Homo sapiens: one gene and its partners. The protein of the gene in region 1 purifies or fractionates together with the protein of each later gene. This does not show direct contact. Each region holds a gene or a part of one and is shown on either strand. Other genes may lie near its edges.

Region 1 (7,022 bases):
CTTGTGATCCACCCACCTCGGCCTCCAAAAGTGCTGGGATTACAGGCGTGAGCCACTGCGCCCGGCCAATTGTGAGTGTTTCTTAAAGCTTCAGTTTGGAAATCAGAATCTCTGTGGATGAGGCTTCAGTGTCTGCATGTTGAACCAGCACCCCAGGTCATTCAGATGCACCCCAAAACTTGAGAACTACCAACCTAGAGTGCTTAAAAGTCTTTCCTTTTTGCCCTTTGTTCACACTGGGGTCTTGGGTTCTTTGCTGCACAATAAGGTTTCTTTTTTCCCTTCTAAGCAAATATTCATGTACTTCTGTGAATCCACATGTTCCGTGTCAGCAGTTGAGGCCAGAAGGTTTGGCAGAGAAGAAGCGAAACTTTGTCTTATAGTACCACAGAAAGTCAGATCGTGTTAGCAATCCCCCAGCATGGAGGCTTTGAAATTATTTTCAGTTGCAGAATCCTTTCCACAAATGAAAGTCTTATGGGGAAGTGTAATTTGAAAACAGATAAAGGTGGTGTTATTCTTGTTGAAACAGAGGTGGAAGACTCCAGGCTGCCACTAAATCTCACTCTTGTTGCTGAAGGGCCTCTAAGAATCTTTGTAGCTCCATGGGGCAGGCAGGAAACTGCAACTCCTCTACTCCAAGGAGTTAAGAGACCAAAGTTCTAGACATTTGTTGAGCTTACTGTGTGACCTTGGCAAGGCACTCTTACTCTTTGGCCACAATAATTTCATCTGTAAATAAGGAGGTCGAATGGTATATCAGCTAGGGTAGTAGCTGCAGTAACAAATAGGTCCCCAAAGGCATAAGGGCTGAAGCAAAGCAGAGCTTTATTATAAGGCAAGTATTTCTGAATGGAGGGTGGTCCTCTTCCTCATGGTACTTCAGTGACTCATCTGGTGGTCCCACTCTCTCCTCAGATATCCTCATTGTCTGCAGCCAGGTGCACAAGACAAAAGAAAGTATGGAGGTGGCATATTTGCTTATCTGCTTTGGCCTGGAAGCAGCAGACATGACTTCCACTCACATGAGAACTATCATGTGGCCAATCTAGTTGCAAAGGAGGCCAGGACATGGAGTTACAAGGATATGAGGTTCTTGGCAAAGAGCAGCTCTTTCCCAGCCACAGTCGTGTATTGTGGACAGGGAGAATGAATTTTTGTGGACAGCTACCTGTCTCTGTCACAAATGTGGTGACCTCTTGGGTTGCTTCCATTCTTTGATTCTAAGTCTACATTTCCATTAGTCAATCTTAGTTAACATGGTGATGTTGGACTCACAACATCACCTATCCTCAAGGTAATTCCCATCAAATATACTAAGTAAATTTCCAGACTCCAGGCCCCTAAACATGGATTTTTCTGAAACATAGGCAACTGCCATTCTCTTTTCCCCCTGGAAAAAGGAAATAAGAATAATGGTTTGATAGAACATGCTGCGGGTTATTAAGCCAAAGGTATTTATATCCATTATCTACTTGAATCTCCCTACAAGCCTACATGGAAAGGCCTCAGGACTATCATCCCCATTTTATAGGTGAATAAAATGAGGCTCAGAGAGCTAAAGGGACTTGCCTAAGGTCACACAGCTCATAGCAAAAGAATGGGATTTGAACGAAAAACATCTTATTCCTGTCCTAGGGCCCCACTGCACATTTGAATGTTGGTGTTCATGTACGTGTACATGGTGTGGTTAGAGTCGGGATTTTCCTTGGGCTGGGCTCCCCCAGGGCTGGGCATGAGGGAAGTGAAAGCTCAGGAATCATGCTCAAACTCCCCAGAATGGGCCAAGGCTGCTGACTGTAAGGCAGCTGGGTGGTTGTCCTAGGTCCTGGGGTGAAGAAGTACAGTGTGACCAAGTATTACAGCCACTGGCTGTGTAAAAGAGAAGGGACAGTGCATGAGGGTGTTGTGTGGTCCTGGAAGACACTGAGGCTTCAACTGGGCTGGCCACATAGTGGGTGCCTGGGAGCACTTTCCTGTGTGAATAAATGCATGTGGGAGTAACAGCTGCAGCACTGTGAGAAAATGAGATGAATCAGACCTGCTTCCTGTCTTTGAGGCCCTCAGGGGAGGAGAGACAAACTTGTAACATATACTTTTATTAATTCACTCAACAAACATTTATTAGCATCTACTACACGTCTGGCTCTCCACAGGGCAAGAACGATGGAAAGACAGGATTCCTATCCTTGTGGAACCCATTTGAGAGATGAGGAAAGTGAGGCCCTGATTGGTTACGTGACATTCCCAAGATCATTTGGCCAGATTAGGACTTGAAACACCTGGCTTCCAGCCCAGCACTTTTTCCATAGCCCCTGCTGAGGAGGTGGCCGTAGGCCAGGACTGAGATGCAGTGAGGAGCCCCTGTTATTGGCAGCCACTTTGAGCTGCCGCCGGACTCAGGACATGCTGGTTTCAGGCGATAGCACGAAACCAGTTATTTCTTTTTAGAACCTCTAGATTTTTGCAGCAATGGACACAGGTATGAATGAGAAAAAGTAGAAATCCTTGCACTGTCAGATGGAATCAAGAGGCAGTAATTCTACGTGGTGCTATCAGAGAAAGAAATGTTGACGTCTGGGTGACGTTGGCTGGTAGCACACTGTGGTGATGATAGATCCCAGATCCAAGTGCTCCAGAGTTGAGATCCCAGCTCTGAACTTTAACCTCCTGAGCCCCTCAGCTTCCTCATTCATAAGGTGGGCATGCTATGAGTACCTGCCTGTCAGGGTTATGGTGAGATTAAATGAGTCCATATCCATCAAGCACTGAGTACAGCACGTGGTCAGTTCAGTGAAGGCATTTCTATTTTTATTTTTGGGACAGTGAGCTTTGAAATTGGCCTTTGCACATCTGGGTGTCTGGTGCCTTGTGATCTTGGGTTCCCAGACTGGAAAATGTCATTTGGGCTAGTCTCTTGCCTCCATGTCTGGCCCCAAGGAGAGGTCTTGGGCTCTGCTGGTGGAGAGTGCCCTGGGCCTCACTGTCTTCACCATAGACAGTCTCTGGCAATGTTGGAAGTACCAGCGGCTGACTCAGCAGGGAGGTCAGCTGCTATCCAGGCAGAATGTCAGAATCGGTTCTGCTTTCTTGGGGTATAGGACATGGGTCCTCAGATTCCAGCCCTGGGTTCCTGCTGAGGGCAGCTCTTGTGCAAGGAGGTGGGTGGGTGGGGAGATGGGTACAAAAAACAACAGTGAGCACACTTGGTTTTTCCTCCTGGAAATCAGGGGTCAGAGAAACAGGAAGTCAATGGAGAGAGGGTGTGGTGTAGTGAGAAGAGGGCAGGCCCTGTGGTCTGGCAGATGTGAGTTCTAATCCTGGGTTTGACACCTATTGATTTATTTTTTATTTTTTGAGACAAAATCTCATTCTGTCACCCAGGCTGGAGTGTAGTGACATGATCACAGCTCATTTGCAGCCTCGACCTCTGGGGCTTAAGTAATCCTCCCACCTCCTGAGTAGGTGGGACTATAGGCATGCATTACCATGTCTGGCTAGTTTTTGTATTTTTTGTAGAGACAGGATGTATTAGTCAGGGTTCTCTTAGAGGGTTCTCTTACGGTTCACTCTCTACATATAAAAAGGGGGAGCTTATTAAGTATTAATTTACATGATCACAAGGTCACACAATAGGCCATCTGCAAGGAGAATCAGTCTGAGTCCCAAAACTGGAGAACTTGGAATCCGATGTTCGAGGGCAAGAAGCATCCAGCATGGTAGAAAGATGTAGGCTGGGAGGCTAGGCCGGTCTCTCCTTTTCAGGTTTTTCTGCCTGCTTTATAGTCTCTGGAAGCTAATTAGATTGTGCCCACCGGAGTAAGGGTGGATCTGCCTTCCCCAGCCCACTGACTCAAATGTTAATCTCTTTTGGCAACACCCACACAGACACATGCAGGATTAATACTTATTATATTTTAATCCAATCAAGTTGACACTCAGTATTAACCATCACACAGGGTCTCACCACATTGCCCAAGCTGGTCTTGAACTCCTGGACTCAAGTGATTCACCTGCCTTGGCCTCCCAAAGTGCTAGGATTGCAGGCATGAGCCACCGCATGTTTTTGCGGTGAGCCCGGCCACCTATTGTTTTTGTGAGCATGTGCAAGTCACATACATATAACCTCTTTAGGCCTCAGTTTCCTCCTGCCCAGGGTTGTTGAGAGAGTGTCTGCCATGTTCTTTGGCCTGGAGTAGGTGCTCAGTAAATGACTTGGGGTGGGGAATAAGGGCAGGGGACACTCAAATGCCCATCCTTTGTTACCTGAATTGGTTTGAACAGTTATCAGAATCTATGAATTCCTGAGTGTTATATGAAGTAAGAATTCAGGTAGCAAGTGTATATGTTTCCTGTTACTGCTATAACAATAACCATAAACCGAATGGCTTAAAACAACACAAACTTATTATCTTATTAGTTCTGGAGGTCAGAAGTCCCAAATGGGTTTCACTGGGCTAAAATCAAAGATTGCATCTCTTCCGGAGGCCCTAGGGGAGAATCTGTTTGCCCTCCTTTTCCAGCTTCTAGAGGCTGCCACATTCCTTGACTCATGGTCCCCTTCCCCAGCCTTCAAAGCCAGCAACCGCAGGTTGAGTCCTCGTCACATCAAATCACTTTGACTCTCCTGCCTCTCTGTCTCATTTTTAAAGACGCTGAGCTCACCTGGGTAATCCAGCATAATCCCACCATCTCAAGATTCCTAATGACGTCTGCAAAGTGTCTTTTGCCATGTAGGATGACATATTTACAGGTTCTGGGGATTAGGATGTGGACATCTTTGGGGATCTGTTATTCTGTCTAACAGTGACATTGGTCTGCATCTGATTGTTTCTTGAATTTCGAATTTAGATATTGGGAGTTCAGGTGGCCATCTATTGACAGTTGGTTCAGCAGAGTATTGACCAATTAGAATGGATGCAAGTGTAGCAACCAGTGAGGCTTTACCAGGGAGTATTCAGTGATTATCAGGACCGAACCAGGAACCAGACTTTGGCATCATTTAGACTGCGTTCACGTCCCTGCACTTATGAACCTGCTGACTCTGAACGAGGGGGTTCTCCCATCTGTGAAATGGGGATGGCGGCATGTTGTACATAGGGTAGTAGTTAGGATGGAAGGAGATAGTAAGAGTTAAGTGTCTGGCACCTGGTAGGAGGCTCAACAGGAATGAATGATCCCCCAGGAGTTTAACTTCCCAGCTTGAGTCTCTCCATCCCAGGTACTGGTGATTTCTAGTTATGAGAACCTTTCTGTCTCTGCCCCATGCTAGGGAGACATGCTTGTCTGGCTCATGGGCTGCAAGGAGCACAAGGGCTCCTTCTCTTCCCCCCTGTAAGAGAGGAGGTTCATTTTTGAGGATGTGGATGCTAACTAGGAGGGGAGAAGGTGCCAGCTGCCCAGCCAGCCTTGTGTTTGACCTGGAAGGCTCTTGGGATATGTGTTGGCTTGAGGGCTGGATTATCTTTGTCCCCTAGGCTGCAGGAGCCTGCAGCCCCCATTCAGCTGTTCTACTATCAATGGGGCTCAGTGTCTCCTATGTCTACCTCCTTCTGCTCCCAGTCCTGCTACCAACTGCTCTACTTTATTTCCAAGTCACTGTTTATATGCCCCAAGAGGGGCTACCTCATTGGTTCATGTAATCCTTCCAGGGTCCCCACTGGATCCCTGCTGGGGTTCTCTCTGATGGTGGATGGATTCCCTCTGAATCTGGAACTTGCATTTCTAGAAGGTCCCAGAAGAATCACGAATTGGCATTGAATTGAATTGGCACTGACCTTGACATGATCTAGTCCAGGGATGGAAGTCCACACCCCTCACCATGTGCTGTGGCAGACATCACACATCAGTCATGACTTTTCCTCTAGTTGAACCCAGATGTCTTTGTCATTTATCTTTGTGGATCAAACACCCCCAAATTTAGTGGCTTGAACTGACTTATTCATTTATAATTATGCAACTTAGCAGAGTTCTGCAGGGACAGTGCATCTCTGCTCCACATAGTGTTGGCTGCGTTACTCATGGGCTGCATTCAGCTGGGAGCTTGACTGGGGCTGGGATATATAAGATGATCTCACATCCTGGAACTTGTGTGCTCTGTTTCTCTCTTTCTCTCTCTCTGTAGCCCATCTCTCCAGCAGAACTGCTTGGATTTTTCTACCAGGAGGCTCAGGGCTCTGCAACAATGATAGCAGAAGCTGATGGCATCTAGAGATCTAGGCTGGGACTAGCACAGCATCACTTCTACCACTTTCTGTTGGTCACAGCAACTCACCATGCCAGTGCAGATTCAAGGGGAGGAGAAATAGAGTCCACTTCTTGATGGGAGGCGTGACATGTGAGTATTGGGGCAGGGTGGGATGTTAGAGTCTATCTTTAAAGACAATCTACCATCTTCATCTTAAAACAACGAATGACAGTGGCCATCTGAGATAATCATTTGTCACCCTAAGTTAGACTACACTCCCATTTTTCAGATGGGAAAACTGAAACTCAAAAAGGATTTGTTTAAAGGAGCCTCTGTTCACTTCACAAGCATTTACTGAGCACTAACTGTGTGCTAGGAGCATGGGATACAGGGAGCTCCTGTTGAGTGGGAGACAGGTGAGTAAACAGACAGAGTGGAGGCCCATCTAGCCAGAAGGTTGGCTTTAATGTTGGTTGCTTGGGGCAAATTTTGCTCACAGGTCACAGTCACCCATGATGATTCCATTCATCATCCATTCAGAACAGTAAGTGACTACTGGGCCATTTTTACCAAGTGCTTATTGTTAAATACCCTCCCACTTATGCCTGCTTGATACATTTAGTGTGCAAAGTACTGCAGGAGTGAAGTGGAGGTAGCTTTCACTGGGGAAGCCAGGAAATAGTGCTTCGAGAAGGAAGCATATATTCGAGCTGGGTTCAAAGGGTGAATTGGCCTTCAGTTGCTTATAGGAGCAGTTGGCTAGACATGAGAGAGATTTTAGGCAGGGAGAGCTGCATGAACACAGATCCAGAGACTTGATGAGTGCAGGGAGTCT
Region 2 (7,399 bases), on another chromosome or scaffold:
AAGTACTGTTAACTTAAAAATTATACAATTTATAAATTTAAGAAAGGAGAGAAGAATTTATTTCTTATAAAGTGTTGCAGCCTGCAAGGTGACCAACCCACAGGCTGGGAAGTGTGCCTCCAGCCGAGACCAGAGATAGGCACTTTGAAGAAGGAGGGGCTGGAGTAGGAGCTTTATGCTGAACAGGTTGGCTAAACATGCATGTTTTACAGGAGGAGCTATGAATATTCATGAAGCTGATCCTGACATGCATATTGAACAAACATGCATGTAACATATGACCATGTTCACTTTAGGATGGAGAGTTAACATTTAAATATATTACAATTAGGCCCTATATGTCAAAATGTTTTTTCAGGACATGAAGGCATATAGATGTGCAACTTCTGTAAACTGATCAGAACCAGCCCATGGGTCAGTGGTATTCTTATCAGGAGAAAGTTATTAAAACCAGTCTTTATCCAATGAAAGCCGTAGTTGTGGCTTGTGGAATAGGGGGTCAGTTAGCGTCTGGTGGAGCTGCAAATTGTTTTAATATTGCTTATCTGAAGGCCAGTGTTTGTTTAGCTGCTAGAGAAAAAGAAAAATCTTGTGACAGTTAGAACATAGTTTATTCTTTACGTGTAGGGTACATGACTTAACCCTCGCCTGGCACGACCTTAGGTCCTATTTATAATTTGGTATTGTATCGCCACAAAGAATCTGTTCTGCCAGTTTTATGATTTCTGTTTTAACATCAATGCCGGTCAGTCGTGTCTAAAAAGGGAGGGGGTATAATGAGGCCTGTCTGACCTCATCTCATCATGGCTGGGAACTAAGTTTTTAAGGCTTTTCTGGAATCCCTTTGGCCAAGAGGTGGTCTGTTCAGTCTGCTGGGGGGTTTAAGATTTTATTTGTAGTTTAAAGTATCATACTATAAATTAAAATAGAATCCATGGGGCCAGGTTAAGGAATAAACACTTTCTCTTCCTGTAATCTACTTTTGGACACTTGTGCATCCACCTTTTTCATGAAGATTCTCTTCTCCCTAAAAAATAAATTCATGCAAACAGATGCTTGTGAGCCAGTGGCCCAACGAGTTCATCAGAAACATTCACTCTAAATAGCTTGGTGCCTAGTGTTCTTAGTACAGTCCAGTGTGATGTAATGAAGAGAGGTTGATACATTACTGATGCATTCAGTGACAACATTTCATTAAGAAGGCTGTTCTGTTTTACACATCTGAAAACCAGTTAGAAAGTGACATGATTTGGATGTTTCCTCCCCTCCAAATCACGTGGTGAAATGCGACCTCCAATGTTGGAGGTGGACTGAGTGGGAGGTGTTTGGGTGTTGGGGGCAGATCCCTCATGAATGTCCTGGTGCTGTCCTCACAGTAAAGTGAGTTCTCACTCTATGAGTTCACATGAGATCTGGCTGTTTAAAAGAGCCTGAGTTTAAAAGAGAGAGCCTCCTCCCTCTCTCTTGCTCCCTCTCTTCATGCGATAGGCCTGCTCCCCCTTTGCCTTCCACCAGGATTGTAAGCTTCCTGAGGTCCTCTCACCAGAACCAGATACCAGCACCACACTTCCTGTACAGCCTGCAAAACTGTGAGCCAAAATAAACCTCTTTTCTTTGTAAATTACCCAGTATCAGGTATTCCTTTATAGCAATGCAAACGGACGAATGCAGAAAGAAAGGGTCTTCATTTCCTAACTTCAGAAACTACAGTCTTTGTAGTTTCCTTTGTAGTACCTTTGTAAAGACAAAGGTCTTTAAACAGTTTAGTGCTTAGTGTTCTCATTAAAGTATAATGTTATATAATGAACGTGGGCTGATAAATTATTGATGCATTGAAAGGCAACATTTCATTGAAAAAAATTCAAACTCAATCTCAGTTTAGAATCTTCCAAGTGAATGAGGACTTCTAACTCTGTTCAGGTCAAATGTAGCCCTCTCAGAGAAACTGACTGACCATGCTGTCTGAAGTTAACAGCTTCCGTTAATTTTGATTCTCTTACCCCATTTTCTTTTTCTTCATAGCACTGTCCGACATTGTATTATATATCTATTTATTTATTATCAGTTTTCTGTCTCCTTACTAGTGTGTAAGCTTCATTAGAGCAGACTTTGTTTTGATTATCAGTATATCTCCTGTGCATATGACAGTGCCTGACACTTATCACCATTACATAATGATTTATTGAGTAAATAAATTGAGTAATTTAATGATTAAATGGTTTGTTTCCATGTTCATGTTCCATCCAGACACATAGGCAGGTATTGTGGCTTATCTCTGAATTCCTTGGTACTGGCTGGTTGGTACCATAGACCCTTGCAAACAATGAATAAATAAATTACCCTGATCCATCAGTGTGCCTGGATAGAAAAGACATGTAGGAATGCTGCACCCCAGGATGTGCTATTAATACACTTATACACCACGGAATACTATGCAGCCATAAAAAAAAGAATGAGTTCATGTCTTTTGCAGGGACATGGATGAAGCCGGAAGCCATCATTCTCAGCAAAATAACACAGAACAAAAAACCAAACACCACATATTCTCATTGAGTATGTGGGAGTTGTTCAACTGTGGGAGTTGAACAATGAGAACACATGGACACAGGGAGGGAAACATCACACACCGGGGCCTGTCAGGGGGTGGAGGGCAAGGGGAGGGAGAACATTAGGACAAATAACTAATGCATGCAGGGCTTAAAACCTAGATGACGGGTTGGAAGGTGCAGCAAGCCACCATGGCACATGTATACCTATGTAACAAACCTGCACGTTCTGCACATGTATCCCAGAACTTAAATAATAATTAAAAAATACACTTAAATTTATTTTTAAACAAGATTGTTCTCTTGAGGTTAACTTATTACTACTTTGAGTTGTCAGGAGTGATTGCAAATTTCTTGGGAATCCCTAAGTCACCAAGAATAAAGACCACTTGTAATAGCTAAGGCATATTCAACAATAAAATTCTAGAGATTCAGGATATTTGATGTTTGCTTATAACATTTCACTTTTGAGCTTTTATTCGTTTAATAAATGTTTTATCATCTATGCTCAATAACATTTTAAAGTGTCCATTCAAATCATTTCATTGGGCAAAACAATGTTCCTTCCCTAATTTCCCTCATCAGAATAGCCATTTTGTCTCTGTGCTCAGCCTATACCACCAATTACTGTTTATTTCCTGTCCTTGTAATAAGCAACATAGTTATTTATACATGCCCATTTCTCCCACAGCACATAAGCTTTTTAAGGTTGGGAACCATGTCTTTGTCATTATTGTAACATCTCTTTCCATTCCCGGTGTTCAGTACGATGTGTTAAACGAAGTAGACACTCAAAACTTTTTAAAATTTATTTTTATTTATATAATGAGTCTTTTTTAAAAAAACCACCTACACTATTTTAAATTCATTTGAACTTTGTCCAGTATCCTATGTACATTTGAAGTTTAACTACCGGAAAAGTCTTTTGAAGGCAGATCGAATCATGTTATTTTTTTCCCTTAAAAATCCCTCATTTCTGTCATGTATTCCCCATATTATTTATGTAATAGGTAAAGTGGCCCAGTTTGCCACTTTGAAGTTGCTGAGCTGGTATCACAAGTCAGTCCCCTCTGTTTTAATCTCTGTTTAAGGAAAGTCACTCTGAAACGACAGATCTTTTGGTTCCTTATTTCTGCTTTCCTCCGTCCTCTTCTGCCTGTGAAGCCACCCTCCTCTGCTCAGCTCTGTTTCAGGAAATCGGAGCTGCTCGATTCATGTGTAGCAAATCAAAGCCAATTAGATCTGCGTTAACCTTGGTTTTCAACAACTTGTATCGTGAAAAGGTTTCTGTCCATGTTTACCCTCATCTTGTCACCATTTAGACCCCTACATACACCGGCTCGCGGAGCCTCCAGCCATTCAGCGCTAGAAAATCGGGGGGACTACGTCTTAAAACCTTGAGCACCTGTTTGGGAACATCTGCACCTCCTCCCTTGAGGGAGAAAACGACCCAGACATTCGCGTCAAAGGAAGTGTCGTCTATTTCCCTCAACGCAGGGCACCCGTTCTAGGAATGTTTGTATAAACACCGTAAACCTGCCTGGTACCACCATGAATGACACAAGAGCTAGTTTAAAAAGAAAGCAAAGAAACAAACGCAAAACCCGAAACCGCATCCTCCACCGCAAAGGTACTCGGATGGGGCGCCCGCCCTCCCCTTAGTCAGAGGACAAAGGGGGCGTGGCCGAGCGCGCGGCGCCCACGTGACCGCGGAGAGCTGCGCGCAGGCCCTTCGCGCGATCTGCCGTCATATCAGCTTATGGCGCCGGTCGCTGATTGGCTGGCCGCTCCAGCCTCCCGGCCCGCTTGCTGGCTGCCCAGCTGCTAGGACAGTTTGCAGAGCAGTGGCGTGCGGAGCGGCGGCGGACCACCTCCAGGTGGGGACGGTGGGTGGGCGGGGAAGGAAGCGGAATACACCTGAGCGGGCTGGGCCGGGGGGCGATGGAATAAAAGAAGATGGAGAGACTTCAGCGCCTGGGACTCGGGTGGGCGAGGCGGAAGGTGTCCTCGCAGCACGGCTTTTCTCCGCGCCGCGGTTGGTTAGCGAGTGCCCTCTGGGTGCTAGGCGTTGGGCGGATGGTAGGATCGCGGTAGCATACGGATCCGAGTCCTGCGCCGAGTGAGAGGAGAGGCTGGCAGGTAGCCTGGCATCCCGAAGACTGGCGGCGAGGGCTGGGCCGGGGGACCTCGGGGCCTGGAGGGCTGCGCCACCTGGGAGTCCGGGCGGAGGGGCCTTCCGCTCGCGCTGGGAGGGATCGCGGGGCCGATAGGGAGGCCTGGACTTGAAGGAGCCGACCGTGGACGGGCTTAAAGAAAATGCAGTGTTTGATGTTGGGTGTTGCAGATCTCTTACTCAAGGGAATTCTGGTCTGGCTGCTGAACACGAATGCTTTACTTTTCCCTTCGTTCTGGGAGGGTTTTTTTCTTTTAAAGGCCAGAAGAATCAGGCTGAAGAACTGGTCGGTATCAGAACTCCTGACCATTGCAAGCCTCTGTTGCTGCGGCGTAATTAGAATGAAGGGACAGCAATCTGGGGCTGAGGAGACTGAAAGGAAAAGGGAAATAATCTGTTCCTTTTGCATCATAAAAGGAAAAATAATGTATACTGACATCCCTGTGTTACAGCAGAGTAGATTTGGAGGTGGTGTAAGTGAAGAAAACAAGACCTCAGTACATAGAGTTTCCAAACTGGAAAGTTTGTGGCAGCTCGGTACTTTTAGAGGAAACCCTCTGGAAGTTATTTGTCTTTATATCACTATCATTTTTTAAAGTTTCTAATGATTGATACCTAGTAAATAATAACTGATCCTTGATCATTTACAGAGTGCTTTTCCATTCGTTATGTAATGTAATTAATTAGCATGGGGTGGTACTCAGAATCCCTCATCTGCATATAAAACATCTTGAGAGATAACATAACGTGGTAGCAAAGAGAAAGGTTGTGGAATGTACATCCCAGCTGGTTTTTTCTGTTATTGTTGCTTGCTACTGAACAAGTTATTTAAATACTCTGACCTCAGTTTCCCTATCTATAAAGTGGGGAGCATAGAAGTACCTATCTCATAGAGGTATAGGGATTAGATGAGGTTATACAAAAATAATACCTGGTTCTCAATAAATATTAGCTATCATTTTCTATACTTTTAAAGTAGGGCAAAAAGATAATGGTAGACTGAGTTGTTCTAAGCCTAATATTGTTATTATAACTGAGTTTTAAGAAGAAGTTTCTTTAATTCTGCAAGGACAAAGTATTTAAGTTTCTGTTTGAAGCAGTGGTACTTAATTTAGGGTCCTTGGGACCCCTAACTTCAGGGCTTATAACCCCTTAAAATTATATGAGCTTGTAGAGGCACTGAACATTTTTAAAAATTCAGGAGTTGACGACTTGAAGTAGTGGTGAAGAGGCTATAGAACTTGGCAGAAGTTCACGTACTTTGCAACTAGATTGTGTGTATTTGAATCCTAGCTCCAGCATTTATTTACTCTTATGACCCTATGCAAGTTACTTAAAATTTCTGTGCCCAGCTTCTTCATCTATAAAATAATACTAGTACCTACCTTTGAGGCTTCTTGAAAGGGAAAATTAGTTAATATATTTAAAATATTTATATTACCTAGTATATATTAAATATTACTATCAACTACTGTCAGTTATTTTTCAAACAAAAATCAAGTGGCACCTATTTTATCTTCTATTGAAGTAATTTTGACGCATTTTTGACGGCCTTAACAGTGATAATCATATAGATGCTATTTTATTGAGTACCTTTCTTGGGTCAAATGTCAAAAGTCTACTTAGTCTCTAAACCTCACAGCAATCAAACATGTTTGTGTTCTTTTTGGTTGCACGATACTATTCTAGGTATTGTATTGAAGTAGGGCCACATGGCACTGTGGGGAACATGTAGATTGGCTCATCAGCTGTTACCAACCTTTAGTGATATAGCAATATCCTTTTCAATTATTAAATGTTTATGTTATCTGATATTACGTAGTACCCTGTCCCTGCTACACCACCTCCCTTGGCAGTCTTCACCCCTATAACTTCAACTACTACCTGTATACTAACCAGGCTCGCTTTTGAACTTCACATTTATATTTACATGTGGCCTATTGCTTATATCTAAGATAGAAGATGAGCCACAGATAATTAGGTTTTAAGATCTACATTGAACCCGTTTTGAACCCCAGATATCTGAGACAGGTCTCAGTCAATTTAGGAAGTTTATTTTGCCAAGGTTAAGGATTCACCCGTGACACAGCCTCAGGAAGCCCTGACAATATGTGCCCAAGGTGGTCGGGGACACAGTTTGCTTTTATACATTTTAGGGAGACATGAGACATCAATCAATATGTGTAAGAAGTACATTGGTTGGGTCTGGTAAGGCGGGACAACTCACAGTGGGGGCTTCCAGGTTAGAAGCAGATAAGAGACAAAGGTTGCATTATTTTGAGTCCTTGATTAGCCTTCCACTGAATGCACACATTTCGTCTGGCTCAGTGAATCTGCATGTTTACATAAACAATAGGGCAGAGGAAGCAATCAGAAATCCATTTGTGTCAGGTGAGCCTCAGAGGGATGACTTTGAGTCCTGTCTGTCCTTTATCCACAAAGGAATTTTCTGAGGGCAAATTGTGAGGGAGGGATGTAGCTTCTCATCCTTGTAGCTGTCTTATTTAGGAATAAAGCGGGAGGCAGGTTTGCCTAACATAGTTCCCAGCCTGACTTTTCTCTTAGCTTAGTGATTTTGGAGTCCCAAGATTTATTTTCTGTTCACACCATCATTCCTTACCCACCCCCTATTCCTACCCTACCCAAATCTGCTAGCTCTGCCAGTATTCCCTATTTCAAT
Region 3 (7,710 bases), on another chromosome or scaffold:
AACAATGAAATATAAACACTTCAAAATACGCAGTTAGGGCTGGGCATAGAGACTCATGCCTGTAATCCCAGCTACTCGGGAGGCTGAGGCAGGAGAATCGCTTGAACCTGGGAGGTGGAGGTTGCAGTAAGCCAAGATCGTACCACTGCACTCCAGTCTGGGTGACAGAGTGAGACACCATCTTAAAAAAAATGCAGTTGGTTTAACTTGGCAAAACACCACTAGATCAAACTACACGAGAAAAAAAGACTGGACCTAATAAAAGAATAAAACAGCAAACAGGCTGTCAAGCTATTCCAAAAGACAAGGGTTACTAGGTTACCCAGTAAACCAATCTCACAAGGCCAGTGTCAGAGTAGATTTGATCTAAATCAAATATAAGTCACTGGTCAGGAGACTGATTACATATTCATGGATACAGTATATATTCTTCAGAGAAATTCTACCTGCTGTTTTCACTCCCACTAGAATGTAAGCTCGATGAGGGAAGAACATTTTTCTATTACTTCCCCACAGTCTATGCAATAAGTAATAATTACTCACTAAACAATTGAAAAGAATAAAATTATCCAACTATGACTTAAAATTTTGCACTTCCGTGAAGACAGTATGCATAGAATCACACATCTATCATCAGGATTTTTATCCCTCATCTAGAAATAAAGCTGCCCACGATCAATCGTTCTCTAAATTAAAGCCGGTTTCAGAACTAAAAGGAAGCTTTTACTGAACACACAATGGGATACTTTAGATTCAGATACAGTCATTTTTCCACTAGACAAACTAGTTTTGTTCTACATAATCCCTATTTCTTGATAATATCTGAGCTTCCTCTTCCAAAGCAGTAAAATACTCCTTTTGTAAATAAAGGATCTACTAAATATATTCCTTCACAGCCAACGGCCTGACAAACCTAGGTCATGTTTGCAGTAAACATTTAACAAGCACACAAGAGTAAAACCTCTTTAATCTACACAGAACAGATTAAAACCACCATGCAGGGAATCAACCCCAACATAATCACAGTCATTCACTACATAACATTTCAGTAAATGAAAGACTACATATACAACGGGGGTCCCATAAAATTGTAATATCGTATTTGTACTCTACTTTCCTATGTTTAGATATACAAAAACTTACCATTGTGTTACAACCACCTATAGCATTCAGTACAGTAACATGTTATACAGGTTTATAGCCTAGGAGCAATAGGCTGTACCATACAAACTAGGCGTGTAGTGCCATCCAGTTTTAAGTATACTCTATGATGTTTGCATAATGACAAAATCACCTAAGGATGCTTTTCTCAGAAAGTATCAACTGTAAATGTAATTCGACTGAGATGTGACTGAATATTCAATGTAGTATATACAGCATATATATTAATATATACATTATATATACTAATATATAATGTCTACATAGTGTATATATGCAATGTAAACACCAGAAAAACAAGAGAAGAAAATAAAGTTCACACGAGTACTTTGAAGATGATTCAGTAAAAGGACCTTAGTAATACTAAAAATATTTATACCTAGATAATGCCAGACTATTAGATTTCAGAACTTATAAAATAGGTAATTTAAAACATTACCTATAAATTTTTAAAATTCAAATTAAAACTTCATGAAATTCAAAAACTCACACTTCAGGAAGATAGTGGTATTTCTGAAGAGGATCTTTCCAAAACTAAAATAATTTTTCCCCTGCAAACATAAAGGAAAGATAATTAGCCTCAGATGGCTTCAATTACCAAAGCATCATATAACTATCTAAGACTGCTAGAAATTCCAACTTAACTTAAATCTTTATGGGACGTACCCCTTAATCAGTTCATTCCCTTTACTCACCAATCACTGCTCAGAATAACCAATCATTTTTTCTAATGAACTATTCTGTGTGCAAATAACCAGAGTTTTATTTTCAAATCTAAAAAGACTTAACTATTAACCATTTTAGTAACAAGTAAAAACCTAACTGAACACCTGAAAATCTTCACCACTGAACAAAAGGTATAACGTTTACCATAATAAAAGCCCAAATAAGATTTGGACATTACAGTCAGTGAGCAGAGCAGAATGAAACAAAAAGGCCAACGTAGGTTTAATGGGGCTAATGCTTTTCAGCATTTCCTCCCTGCATCTGGTTTTTGTCTGCTCACAGGACTATACCTGTTACTGAAATAAGGTTTAAAATGGGTAAGGGGCAGAAAGGGTCAACCCATGTAGTTAATTATCCAAATGAAAGACTAGCCTTACCACATTAAATTTTAAGTACTATTTCTTCAATTTTAACCATTCCCATGTTAAAACACATTTCTTAAATCTCTATGCTTTCTAGTCACACAGTAAAGCTTAGAATAGCCATTCCAAAGTTGAAGCGAAGTCGAACCATCTCGTAAGCAGAATTACCCAGGGACCAAGAAGTGCAGAGGAAGAAAAAGAAAGAAAGAAATGAAGACTCCTATTTACATATCTTTCTTATCCAACCCGGGGACACTGGATTCTGTGAAACATCTGAAAGATAAACAACTCTCCGTTTGTACATCAAGTTTACATCTCAAGTCAGGCACTGAAAGTTCTGTTTTTCTGATGAGAAGCCGCTCCACCACTCCTTTCTGTTGCTGAAGTGGCCCTTACATTCCCGCTAGCCTAATCACAGAAGTGCGCGGCTTTCCACTCCAGGGAGGTGGGTCCCAGTTGGCTAGCCACACAGACCATCCCAGCAACCCCACCCCTTTTGAAGAGACTTTTGCGGAACCTTCATGGACCCCTTGGGCCGCCGTAGCCCCACCCCTTGCTCCTCTAGGTTCAGACGTTAGTGAAGTGAATACTCACCGACGGTATCGGAATGTGCCATTTGGACCGGTCGGCAGCAGCTACGGTTGCCGGTCCCGCACTGAAAAACGACAGTGGTGACGGGTGAGCTCCCAGAAGCAGAAGAATGACAGGCAACACCTGAAGCCACGCAGCCGCCGCCATCTTCACAGCCGTGGAGTGCCTACCGAAAGCATTTCACCCTCTTCCGGTTCGTCCCGCCTTCTTCCGGCTCTGCTCTAAGGGCGGGATTATCCGGGTCCTGGAAACGTCGCGGAGCTTGTTTGCTGTGCGGCGTAGCGGCCCCTCTCTCAGACAGTCGTCTGTGCGCCGTGAGACTTTGGACCTACTGCGCAGGCGTCATCCTGTTGGAACCTGGTCAGCTGGGTTAGAGAGATCGCTACATGCCAGCCTGGCCTGAGTCTTTTCTGTCTCCCAGCCGTTAAAGGTTTTAGGACCAGGCAGGCACCCCGTGCAGGATTTGGCTCTCTACTTCCGCTCGCCCCAGCCCTTCATCCCTTCTAAGTCAATGTCAGACTTTGGGGCCAGAAAGTCTGGAAAAGCCCTAAGCCTGGCTGCCCAAGTGGCGTCTAGTAGTGAGTTCTCCGGTTTGGGTGGTATTTAAGCAAAGGCTGGAATTCGGCGGTGGTGGAGTACACGCGATTCCTAGACTGGGTAGTGTAACAACCTTCAAAGGCCCCTTCTAGCCCTGAAGAGTACGATGCTGCAGTACAATCTGGCTGGAGACCTAGCCTCCAGCAAAGACCCGGCCGGCACTTCCCACCCTTAACCGAAAACGGAGACAGAGAGGGTCAGTTTTCAAAATCTGTGGCGTGACCCCGCCACTGAGATAGATCTGCAGATGCTTCGTCCCAGTCAGGGAGGCCGTCTCGGCATTTCCAGGTTCTTAACGCTCTTGATTTTTACCCTCTAGGACTCATTGCGTACACGCCCTCACCGCCGCCCAGTTTCGGTTCCTAACAAAAGCACGTTCCTCATCAGCCACCCATAATCAAGACAAATTTGCCAAATAAATCATTGTAGAAACGCTAGTTTGGGCCTGAAAAATTCCAGGAGCAAGAGTCAAGATTTGTCACTCCATGAGAATCTGGAGGGGACTCCCTTCCCAGAAACTTGACGATGAAGTACTGGTTGTAATTTTAGAAAGACACCCAATCGGCTTTTTTAAAAGATCGCCCAGGGCCCTTGTCCTGAGAGCTGGGAGCTGGTCGGAGTGACAGAGAAGCCATGGAAGCAGCAGTGAAAGAGGAAATAAGGTAAAGGCCAAGTGCTTCTGTAGCGAGTGACCCCAGGGTCCCTAGAAACAGGGAATAGTGTTTTAATTGCATTTCTTATTTGCGTATTTGGTATTTGCTGACCTTTATCTTTTCTCTCAATTCGCGGGAAGTTAGTTGATATTAATAGCCTCTCATAAAATACTTTCAGGATGGTTAAATAGGCCGGGTGCAGTGGCTCACGCAGGTAATCCCACAGCACTTTGGGAGGCTAAGGTGGGAGGATCGCTTGAGTTCAGGAGTTCGAGACCCCCTCCCCGCCCCCTCGGAGTCCCAGCTACTTGGGAGACCACTGGGAGGATGGATTTGGAGGCTGCAGTGGAGCTGTGATCTTGCCACTGCTTGGGCAACAAAGTGAGACCCTGTCTCCAAAAAAAAAGGATGGTTAAATAACATTAACAGTGGAAAAGTTGCAATCAGAACTCTTAACACGTGAATTTCAGGCATGTTGCTTTCCAAATTCATCTATAATCACCCCTTCCTATATCATCCCAGAGTTAATTCTTCGAAGCTGTAAAGAGGAAACAAAAGATTCTCCAATCTTTGTACACTTGATTAAAATAAACTGGGCCGGTTCGCTCATGCCTGTAATCCCAGCACTTTGGGAGGCCTATAGGTGGGCAGATTGCTTGAACCCAGGAGTTCAGACCAGCCTGGGCAACATGCTGAATCCCTGTCTCTACAAAAATTTTAAAGTTAGCCAGACGTGGTGATGTGGGCCTGTAGTCCCAGCTACTCAGGAGGCTGAGGCAGGAAGATAGCCTGAGCCCAGGAGGCGGCAGTTGCAGCAAGCCAAGATCGTGCCACTTCACTCCAACGTAGGAGGCAGAGCGAGATCCTGTCTCAAAAAAAATTTTTTTAATAAATTAAAATAAACGGACAAAGACTGAGTTCAGTGAAGGACAAACAGTTTTTTAGTATGGCCAAGTATATCTGCCTGGGCTTGTTTTCATAATATTTCGACGTTTGTGTTCAGTCATAGCTTTCTACATAATCATGGACATGCTGACTACAGATGCATTCGGCCACACTAGTGCATGAAAGCCGGTGTAATTTTTTTTTCTCCTTATAATCTGTAGTTGTTTTAATCAGATGGAGGCTAGTTTAAATACATATACTCAAACTTCAATATACATATATCTCATTCATGTTTTATCCCAGAAACAGCTCTTCTGGAAACTTGGTTTTAAAAAACATGGCCCCTAGTTTGTCACCTCATCTTAAAAAGCAAGAAATTCCCCTTCTACGTCTGTTCTGTTCTTATTCTAGCACCTTGCACCTCTATTAAAGCATTTGTCAGCTTGTATTGTGATTGCTGGTAAAACCCTAACTGATAGCTTGAACACAGTTCATATCTTCCTCAGAGCCCAGCTCTCAGGAAGAATATTCTGAAAATATTTTCTTGAATAAATCGGTGGGTGGGTTATGGTTCTTAGTTTGTCTGGTTGGTTGGTTTTGGTTTGTTCGTTTTGGGATGCTGTTTTGGTTTTCCTCCTTCAGATTTTACTTTTGTGGTCATAGCCTTCAGTCATTATTTCAAAAGAATATGTCCTCATAAGTGACAGTGATCTTTTCCCATTACTTTTGGAGTAATCCCAGAACCTGATGTTTTGTTGTTTACCTCAGAGGGTTTACAAAAGGCTATTGTTCTGCAACATAATGTGCTATTATGTTATACTGTGGCCGTGACACAATTTTGCATTGCAGAATAGACTCCAAAGGTTTATTTTGCATGTTCATACTGTCGTTAGAGAAGGTACAAAAGTTGGATTCACAAGCCCTGTGTGAAATAAATTTCTCAAAATGTCTTTTTATTTAGTCTTGAAGATGAAGCTGTAGATAAAAACATTTTCAGAGACTGTAACAAGATCGCATTTTACAGGTAAGGAAAATAAATATAGTAGCTAGATCAAAACATCTCTGACAGTATTTCAAAATTGATGCTTATTAAATTTTTGGAACTGATAGACTTTCCAAGGAAAGGATAATTTAATAATTAAGGAAATCATCAGACAGGAGACTCACTTTTAACTTTATACATTTACTCCTGAAGTATTTAAATTTTTCAATAAACAGCTATTTTATTTTAAAAGCCAAAATATTTTTAAACTAGTTTTAAATTTTGACGCTTTGAATAGATAACACTTTTACATGGTTCAAAAATAATATAAAGAGCTATACATTGAAAAATGTTGCTTCCACTCCTGTCCCCTTCTACCCATTCCTCATCTTGTCCCGAATAACCGAATTTCTTCATTTCTTATTTATCCTTCCAGTATTTTTTTGTAAATACATGTATTTTTATATTATTGCTTTTCTCTTTTTTTAATCACCCCTTTTTATACCAAATAGGTTTTTTTTCCTGCTTTATAGTTTGTTCTGAGGAGAAATTCATATGAGTGCATGGAGATTGTTTCTCCTTTTTACAGCTGCATAATATTCCATGGGGTAGATATACTATTAATATAATTTATTCAGTCTGTCTCTTATTGCTAGACCCTTGGGTTGTTTTTAATCTTTTGCTAAAATAGCACTACCACAATGAAGAGCTATACATAGGTCATTTTCTACACATGCAGGTGTATTTATAGGATACCTTTCTAGGAGTGAGATTACTGGGTCAAAGAGTAAATGCATTTGAAATGTGTTAACTATTACCAGATTTCCCTCCATAGGAATTATACCATTTGTACTCCTATCAACATTATATAAGATTGCCTGGCTGGGCGAGGTGGCTCACACCTGTAATCCCAGCACTTCGGGAGGCCAAGGCAGGCGGATCACCTGAGGTTGGGAGTTTGAGACCAGCCTGACCAACATGCAGAAACCCCGTCTCTACTAAAAATACAAAATTAGCCAGGCATGGTGGCGCATGCCTGTAATCCCAGCTACTTGGGAGGCTGAGGCAGGAGAATTGCTTGAACCTGGGAGGCAGAGATTGTGGTGAGCCGAGATTGTGCCATTGCACTCCAGCCTGGGCAACAAGAGTGAAACTCCGTCTAAAAAAAAAAAAAGATTGCCTGTTTCTCCAGAGCTACAAAAAATATGCCTTTAAAATCTTCATTTTATTTTATTTTTATGCATTTTTTTGAGACGGAGTCTCCCTCTGTCACCCAGGCTGGAGTGCAGTGGCGCAATCACTGCCCACCACAACCTCCACCTCCTGGGTTCAAGCGATTCTTCTGCCTCAGCCTCCCGACTAGCTGGGATTACAGGCATGCACCACCACGCCCGGCTAATTTTTTGTATTTTTAGTAGAGAGGGGGTTTCACCATGTTGGTCAGGCTAGTCTTGAATTCCTGACCTCAGATGATCCATCCACCTCGGCCTCCCAAAGTACTGGGATTACAGGCGTGAGCCACCACGCCTGGCCATAATGTTCATTTGAAAAAAAAAAAAAAAAAAAAAACAGTCTTTACGTGATCTTGAAACTGAAATAATCAAAAATTGTATTATACAGTATAGCTTTCTAACATATTCCCTCTCTGTTTAATAGGAAGAAAAGCGTATTATGTTAATTCTGAACAGGTATCTAGAGGGAAGTCTACAGTGAATGCCTGGTAACCTTGTTAAACCACTAGATTATATTTAAT

What was found. The genes of interacting proteins can lie anywhere in the genome.
Region 2: the proteins of CMKLR1 (region 1) and SC5D purify together in Homo sapiens (co-immunoprecipitation; 2 studies listed by BioGRID and IntAct, with this or other methods). This does not show direct contact.
Region 3: the proteins of CMKLR1 (region 1) and TMEM87A purify together in Homo sapiens (co-immunoprecipitation; 2 studies listed by BioGRID and IntAct, with this or other methods). This does not show direct contact.

The regions. Positions count from the first base shown.
Region 1 is NC_000012.12:108,329,310-108,336,331, reverse strand, and holds part of CMKLR1 (chemerin-like receptor 1), read left to right. Parts: intron 1-6,124; 5' UTR 6,125-6,337; intron 6,338-7,022. UniProt on the Homo sapiens protein: Receptor for the chemoattractant adipokine chemerin/RARRES2 and for the omega-3 fatty acid derived molecule resolvin E1.
Region 2 is NC_000011.10:121,288,394-121,295,792, forward strand, and holds the start of SC5D (lathosterol oxidase), read left to right. Parts: upstream 1-4,377; 5' UTR 4,378-4,423; intron 4,424-4,458; exon of another isoform or gene 4,459-4,685; intron 4,686-7,399. UniProt on the Homo sapiens protein: Catalyzes the penultimate step of the biosynthesis of cholesterol, the dehydrogenation of lathosterol into 7-dehydrocholesterol (7-DHC).
Region 3 is NC_000015.10:42,270,412-42,278,121, forward strand, and holds the start of TMEM87A (transmembrane protein 87A isoform 1 precursor), read right to left. Parts: upstream 3,023-7,710; 5' UTR 2,988-3,022; coding exon 2,844-2,987; exon of another isoform or gene 2,790-2,843; intron 2,655-2,789; exon of another isoform or gene 2,478-2,654; intron 1,713-2,477; coding exon 1,652-1,712; intron 1-1,651. Other genes in the region: GANC (neutral alpha-glucosidase C), read left to right, coding at 4,071-4,099, 5,937-5,999. UniProt on the Homo sapiens protein: Potential monoatomic ion channel gated by mechanical force, implicated in normal touch sensitivity through the generation of mechanically activated currents.